Homo sapiens: one gene and its partner. The protein of the gene in region 1 interacts with the protein of each later gene in a pairwise test. Each region holds a gene or a part of one and is shown on either strand. Other genes may lie near its edges.

Region 1 (4,576 bases):
TGCCTCAGCCTCCTGAGTAGCTGGGACTACAGGCGCAGGTCGCCACGCCCGGCTAATTTTTTTTTTTTTTTGTATTTTAGTAGAGATGGGGTTTCACCATGTTGCCCAGGTTGGTCTCGAACTCCTGAGCTCAGGCAGTCCACCCACCTCAGCCTCCCAAAGTGCTAGGATTACAGGCATGGGCCACCGCACCCGGCAGTTTTTTATTTTTATTTTTATTTATTTTTATTTTTGAGACAGAGTCTTGCTCTGTTGCCCAGGCTGGAGTGCAGTGACGAGATCTCAGCTCATTGCAACCTCTGCCTCCCAGGTTCAAGCGATTCTTCTGTCTCAGCCTCCTGAGTAGCTGGGATTACAGGCGCAAGCCACCACACCTGGCTAATTTTTGTATTTTTAGTAGAGGCTGGGTTTCTTCATGTTGGTCAAGCTGGTCTCGAACTCCCGGCCTCAGGTGATCTGTCTGCCTCTCCTCCCAAAGTGTGAGTCATCCTACCTGGCCTGTTTTTTATTTTTAAACCATAATTTATTGATTTTTTTTTTTGAGATGGAGTCTCGCACTGTCGCCCGGGCTGGAGTGCGAGTGCAGTGGTGTGATCTCGGCTCACTGCAAGCTCCGCCTTCCAGGCTCAAGCAATTCTCCTGCCTCAGCCTCCTGAGTAGCTGGGATTACAGGCGCCCACCACCACGCCGGGCTAATTTTTTGTATTTTTAGTAGAAACGGGTTTCATTATGTTGGCCAGGCTGGTCTTGAACGCCTGACCTCGTATCCACCCGCCTCAGCCTCCCAAAGTGCTGGGATTACAGGCATGAGCCACCACGCCCAGCCCATAATTTATTGATTTTTTAAAATTTGTCCAGCCTTCTATTACCACGTCGAATCCATTAGCTACAGCCATCCCATGAGAAGCTGAGTGGATTCAGCCCCACCTCCTGCTCACAGACCCTGTCCGAGCACCTCATTTGTCCCAACAGCATTACTGCAGGACCCCCAGGACGTTGGACTGCCAGCTCCCTGGGTCTCCTCCTCTCTGGGGCAGATCCTCAGTCCTCCCTTGACTTCACGACTGTGGCCAGATCATGTGTGGACTGTCCCTCTCTTTGGGTCTCCAGAGCGCTTGCATCAAACACCCCTAACTCAGAAGTGTGCAGCCACACTGGGACTCAGAACCCAACAACAGGGACAGAAGACTCACGCCCTTGGGGTGCCCGGTCTCGTGGCATCAGGCATGACTTCCAGCTCCTGCGCCTTCCCCAGCAACTGCTGACTGGGGACCCAGACCGGGAGCTGAGCGACGGGCCTGGCGAGCGAAGCTCGGGGTCTCACTCAGGCACCAGCCCCTCCTTGCCCCAGGCTTGAGTGACTCACAGGTCTGTCATGTCCCGCTGGCCCGGGAAGGCGGGGTCTGGGTGGGAAGGTGGGCGGGCAGGTCAGCAGTTCCCAGGCCTGGTGCTGGTCCTCCTTGTTGGCGGCGAGGCGGAGACGGGGCGGGCCTGCCTGTTGGCAAGGGTGGGGCGTCCGGCCCAGCCAGGCCCTTCCTGGCCGGGTGGCTCAGGAACACAGCCTCTTCCTCTTTTTTTTCCCCTCCTAGCCCTATTCAGGCAGGAGCTGCTCTTCTGGGGTATCGCGATCCACTTAAGGATGAGGCAGACTTGGTGACAAGCTGGTCTGAGCAGGTATGGGAGCCCCCTGGGGAGACGGAAGAAGGGAGGAAGTTGCCTTCTGCCTGGGGAGGGTTTGAGAGGGAGAGGGAAGCCTAGGGCTCCCACCAAGGCTGATATTGACAGCCAGGGTTTGGGGCTGAAGCCAGGAACCGTCGCTCTCTCTGGTTCTTACTGGTAGCCCTCATGGGGGTCCCTGACGCCAGAGCCTCCAAGGCTGCATGTGCCAGCCCAGGGCTGCCCACATACCCATGTATATCCCAGAATAGGCACCAGGGTAGGGAACCCAAACTAGCATGAGTGACAGAGCAGGTGGTCAGGGAGAAACAGACATCAAACCCAGCCAGGAGAGAGACACCGCAACAGAGAGACAGAGAAGGGAAACCAGAGACGAGAGGGAAAGTGAGACAGAGACGGACAGAGCCTCAGAGAGGTAGGAAGTGAGCCCGAAGGGAAGGTGACAGGTTGATAGAGAAAAGCAGGCAGACAGAGCAGAGGAACTCATGCCTCAGGATGCAAAAGCCACATGGACAGGGCGTGGAGCAAGGAGCCGAGCCCTGCAAGGTCAGGTGAGTGTGAGACAAAGATAAACTGAGAGAGGGGGGCTCCAGCTGGTGAGATGAACAAGAAGGGCTCCCCAGTGGTGGCAGGGGCATGGGAAAGAGTCCCCATCACAGGTTGCAATGGGGATGATTTGGCCATATCTGAGACCTTTTAAAATGCACACACCCTTCACTGCCGGGAGTTTATCTTAAAGAGAACATCTCACAAGTGGGGAGACAGAGATGAACGAAGATGTTCCTGTAGTTGCTAATGGAGGCGAAAAGCACTGGGGTCTTGGAACAACATGGTGAAACCCCATCTCTCCAAACAAATTTTAAAAATTAGCTTGGTAGCCGGGCGCGGTGGCTCACACCTGTAATTCCAGCACTTTGGGAGGCTGAGGTGGGAGGATTACTTGAGGTCAGGAGTTTGAGACCAGCCTGGCCAACATGGTGAAACCCTGTCTCTACTAAAAGTACAAAAATTAGCCGGGTGTGGTGGCACGTGCCTGTAATCCTAGCTACTTGGGAGGCTGAGGCAGGATAATCTCTTGAGCCTGGGAGACGGAGGTTGCAGTGAACTGAGATCAAGCCACTGCACTCCAGCCTGGGAGACAGAGTGAGACTCCATCTCAAAAAAAGAAAAAAAAAATTAGCTTGGTGTGGCAGCATGCACCTGTAGTCCCATCTACTCGGAAGGCTGAGGTGAGAGCATCACTTGAGCCTGGAAGGTGGAGGTTGCAGTGAGCTGAGATCACATTACTGCCCTCCAGCCTGAGCAACAGAATGAGACTATCAAAAAAAAAAAAAAAAAAAAGGGGGGGGGCCGGGCGCGGTGGCTCACGCCTGTAGCCCCAACTACTCAGGAGGCTGAGGCAGGAGAATCACTTGAACCCGGAAGGCAGAGGTTGCAGTGAGCCAAGATCACGCCACTGCACTCCAGCCTGGTGACAGAGCAAGACTCCATCTCAAAAAAAAAAAAAAAAAAAAAAAAAAAGGTAGACTAGGCCAGGCGCAGTGGGTCAGGCCTATAATATCCCAGCACTGGCTGGGCGCAGTGGCTCACACCTGTAATCCCAGCACTTTGGGAGGCCAAGGCCGGCTGATCACCTGAAGTCAGGAGTTCGAGACCATCCTGGCCAAGATGGTGAAACCCTGTCTCTACTAAAAAATATAAAAATTAGCTGGGCGTGGTGGTGGGTGCCTGTAATCCCAGCTACTCGGGAGGCTGAGGCAGGGAGTTGCTTGAACCCAGGAGGCTGAGGTTGCAGTAAGCCGAGATCACGCCACTGCTCTCCAGTCTGGGCGACAGAGTGAGACTCTGTCTCAAAAAAAAAAAAAAAAAAAAAAAAAAAAAAAAAAAAAATCCCAGCACTTTGGGAGGCTGAGGTAGGAAGATCACTTGAGTCCAGCAGTTTGAGACCAGCCTGGGAAACATAGAATTCAGGAGGCTGCAGTGAGCTGTGATGGCACCATTGCACTCCAGTCTGGGCGACAGAGCAAGACTTTGTCCCAAATAAATAAACAATAAAAGAATAAGCTTGACCGCTTGTGCACTGTTGGCGAGAACGTAAAATGGTGCAGTCACCATGGAGACCAATATGACACTTCCTCAGAAAATTAAAACTAGAACTACCATATGATCCAGCAATTCCACTTCTGGGTATATACCCAAAAGAACTGAAAGCAGGGGCTGGGCGCTCTGGCTCACGCCTGTAATCCCAGCACTTTGAGAGGCCGAGGCGGGCAGATCACGAGGTCAAGAGATGCATGAGGCTGGGGCACCAGGGCTCATTCCTGCAATCCCAGCACTTTAGCAGGCTGAGGCAGGAGAATTGCTTGAGCCCAGGAGTTCAAGACCAGCCTGGGCAACATAGTGAGACCTTGTCTCTATTTAAAAAAAAAAAAAAAAAAAAAAAAGGACACGGTGGCTCACACCTGTAATCCCAGCACTTTGGGAGGCCAAGGTGGGCAGTTCACCTGAGGTCAGGAGTTCGAGACCAGCCTGACCAACATGAAGAAACCCCATCTCTACTAAAAATACAAAATTAGCTGGGCGTGGTGGAGCGTGCCTGTAGTCCCAGCTATTTGGGAGGCTGAGGCAGGAGAATCGCTTGAACCTGGGAGGCAGAGGTTGCAGTAAGCCGAGATCGCACCATTGCACTCCAGCCCGGGCAGCAAGAGCGAAACTCCGTCTCAAAAAAAAAAAAAAAAAACCAGATGGATGGATGAATGAATGAATGAACAAAATGTGGTCTACCCAGATGCCCAGACAATGGAATATGATTCAGCCATGAAAAGGAAAGAAATTCTACAGCCGGGTGCGGTGGCTCACGCCTGTAATCCCAGCATTTTGGGAGGCCGAGGCGGGCAGA
Region 2 (3,808 bases), on another chromosome or scaffold:
CGTGGGAGGTGACCACGTGTAAGTGTGATGAGCAGAGGGCAAGGACCATTGGGGGGGGCATCTTGAAGGGCTTCTATAGCAAGGGAGGTGGTGGTGGTTGTGGCGGTAAAAACTAGGTCACTGTTTTTGTTGTTTTGTCGATGATATTTGTGTTAAGATGAAGAGCTGAGACTCATATCTCAACAGAGTTTATAAAATGCTTTTCTTTTTTCCATCCTGCCCTCTCTTCTCCCTTGTCTGTTCGAGCTAGCCATGGGAATGTGGTGTTCCTGCCAGTGCATCCATTGAGTTCGTTTATTGTTAATTTATTTATTTTCTGAGATGGAGTTTTTGCTCTATTGCTCAGGCTGGAGTGCAATGATGTGATCTTGGCTCACTGCAACCTCTACCTCCTGGATTCAAGTGATTCTCCTGCCTCAGCCTCCTGAGTAGCTGGGATGACAAGTGCCCGCTACCATGCCCGGCTAATTTTTGTATTTTTAGTAAAGGCTAGGTTTCACCATGTTGGCCAGCGGGTCTCGAACTCTTGACCTCAGGTGATCCACCGACCTAGGCCTCCCAAAGAGCTGGGATTACAGGTGTGAGCCGCCACACCCTGCCGAGTTTGTTTATTTGAGCAGATAATGTGTGTTAGAGTTGCTTAGAAAAACAAGATGGTGGACGGGCCCCATGCTAGTGGGTACCATCCCTACTGGAAAAACCACTGCTTGGTGCATTAGCCAAATTTGCTTTAAAATTGTTTTTTAAAAAGGGAGGGCTTTTATAAAAATCAAATGAACTAGGACTGGTTAGTGGGAGGCTCACGCAAGGGTTGTGCTGAGGCTGGAAGGCCCAGAGTAGGAAGAGTTGTGGAGTGCAGAATGAGCTCTCCAAGGGCAGACACTGCCAGCCTCACTGTTCTCTGAACCCCCAGTATGGGGGACAGTGCTTGGCACAGAAAAACCCCCTTAAATGTTTGCTATGAATGGTGCTAAGGAAGAAGGCAGAGAATGTCAACCAGAGGCCAGGCACTGGGCAATATATACACGGCCCCTTCTGTGCCCTCAGCCACTTTGGCGCAGTCACTGTTTAGGTTAAAGATACCAGAGAAGGCAGGTATTCATGTTCCTACTTCGTAGGCAGAGACGTGGTGGCCCAGAGAGGTTAAATAACTCCCGAGATCACCCAGCTAAGCACTGTGGGATCACGGGTTTGAATCTGGTATGTCTGACTCCCTTCTGTACCCAGCACTGTCTGCTGGTCTAGGGCATAACCAGCCAGGGATGGGCAGCTCGTTCAGTAAACAGGAGAGCAGATGAATGACTCGTGTGGAGAGCACGCAGTGGAGTGAGCAAAACTGGGAGGCTGGAGAAGTCGCTTTAAATTAACCTGAAAATGTTTAATATGCTTTTTATTTTGTTTATTTTTTTTGAGATGGAGTCTATCTTTGTTGCCCAGGCTGGAGTGCAGTGGTGCAATCTCGGCTCACTGCAATATCCACCTCCCAGGTTCAAGTGATTCTTCTGCCTCAGCCTCCCGAGTAGATGGGATTACAGGCAACTGCCACCACGCCTGGCTAGTTTTTGTATCTTTAATAGAGATGGGGTTTCACCATGTTAGCCAGGAGGCTGGTCTCGAACTCCTGACCTCAAGTGATCTGCCCAGCTCAGCCTCCCAAAGTTCTGGGATTACAGGCATGAGCCACCACGCCCAGCCTTAAATATGGTTTTTATTTGAAAAAAAAAAAAATCCCTAGAAACATGTAGTGGAGACACAGCTTTAAAGCTCTGAATAGTTGATTTTCAGCTCATGCCTGTAATCCCAGCACTTGGGGAGGCTGAGGCGGGATGATTGCTTGAGGCCAGGCGTTTAAGAATAGCCTGGACAACATAGTAAGACCCCATCTCTAAAAAATTAAAATTAAAAAATAAAAAAAGAGTCGACTTTATTTCTGTAACTGGAAGAATCTAGCTAACATTTCTCAAGCACTTTATAGGTGCCAGGAACTCTACTTTAAGTAATTAAACTCAGGTTCTCATTTATACTTACATTCCTTGTGCCTATTGTATGGATAAGCAAACTGAGGCTCAGAGAAATTTAGGGACTTGCCAAAGGTCACACAGCTTTGTTAGTAGCAGAGATGAGATTTGGCCCAGGTCTGGCTCCGTGCACTTGATTTCTGCTCTTTAGTATCTCCTGGTTGAGTCACTGGAATACACAGCATAGCTTAAAATGAAGGAGGAAGTACTGAAGAGGTAATGGAAGGAGACCTAACTGTCTCTGAGAGGGAAGAGAGTGGTTGGGAGGGAACTATATTAATTGAGGAGTGCAGAGAAATTAATATGGTCCAAAGGAAAAAAAGGTTTTTTTGAGATGGAGTTTTGCTCTTATTTCCCAGGCTGGAGTGCAATGGCATGACCTTGGCTCACTGCAACCTCTGCCTCCCAGGTTCAAGCAGTTCTCCTGCCTCAGTCTCCCAAGTAGCTGGGATTACAGGCGCCCACCACCACACCCGGCTAATTTTGTATTTTTAGTAGAGATGAGGTTTCACCATGTTGGCCAGGCTGGTCTTGAACTCCTGACCTCAAGTGATCCACCCGCCTCGGCCTCCCAAAGTGCTGGGATTACAGGCATAAACCACCGTGCCCGGCTGGTCCAAAGAAAGTTGTGTGTCGAGAGCTCATCCAGCAGGCTTCTTAAATCAGGAGCTTGTAAGTTGCATATAAAGACAAAAAAGGGAGTTCCAAAGAGTAATGCTGTGGGAAATGACTTGAATTTAAACCGTCACCTTGTTTCATCTCATGGACTGGTCAGACACCATTTTTGTTGTCGTTGTTGTTGTTAAATTAATTGCTCAGAATATAGCAGCAGGCGCAAATTGTAGTACTCGTTTTAAAATTGAAGATTAAATTTTAAATTACCCAACAAAGGCCTAACTTTGTTAAAAGAGAGGGAAAGGACAGGTTCTGCCAGTATCTCTGGCCAGCTAGCTAACTAACTTTTTTCTTATTCCAAAAAAATGACTTGGGACCACTTATAAAAATTATGTATTGTTCAATGAGATACAATTAATGAGGAAATCAGGATGAGAGAAAAATAAAGGCAGGGAAATAAAGCTATGGCCCATTTAGCACAAACGCATCCCAAAGATTGCTAGAAGCAGAGGTGAAATTTTTGCTGTGTGTTAACAATCAAAGCAAAAAGAGGAACAAGGTCCATTAGAACATTCTCAGAATCCACAAGATAGAAATGAATCAGTTGTTCAGCATAAACACAGTGTTTCCTGGTGCTGTTGGAACACTTTGTGAAATTAGGGACAATATCTCATCAACATCCCAGACCAACATCCCAAAAGACCATTTAATAGCTTGCATCTGTGCTTCTCCCTACCCCATAGCCCCTCCCTCCAGAGATGACCACTATGCTGACTTGTAAAATATTAATCTTATATCCAGCCACCTTTCTTTTTCGTTTGTTTGTTTGTGTTTTTGCAGACAGAGTCTTATTCTGTCGCCCAGTGCAGTGTTGTGATCTCAACTTACTGCAACCTGTGCCTCCCAGGTTCAAGTGATTCCCCTGCCTCAGCCTCCCAAGTAGCTGGGATTACAGGTGCATGCCACAATGCCTGGCTAATTTTTGTATTTTTGGTAGAGACGGGGTTTCACCATGTTAGCCAGGCTGATCTCGAACTCCTGGCCTCCCACAGTGCTGGGATTACAGGTGTGAGCTGCCATTCCTGGCCTTATCCAGCCACCTTTCTAAACTCACATTTATTTCTAATAATTTGTCTGCAGACTCTTTGAGGTTTTTACATATCATGTCATCTGTC

What was found.
Region 2: the proteins of DNASE1L1 (region 1) and PECAM1 interact in binary tests that used the Homo sapiens proteins (3 or more experiments, as listed by UniProt).

The regions. Positions count from the first base shown.
Region 1 is NC_000023.11:154,406,210-154,410,785, reverse strand, and holds the start of DNASE1L1 (deoxyribonuclease-1-like 1 precursor), read left to right. Parts: upstream 1-1,531; 5' UTR 1,532-1,674; exon of another isoform or gene 1,675-2,228; intron 2,229-4,576.
Region 2 is NC_000017.11:64,380,642-64,384,449, reverse strand, and holds part of PECAM1 (platelet endothelial cell adhesion molecule precursor), read left to right. Parts: intron 1-3,808. UniProt on the Homo sapiens protein: Cell adhesion molecule which is required for leukocyte transendothelial migration (TEM) under most inflammatory conditions.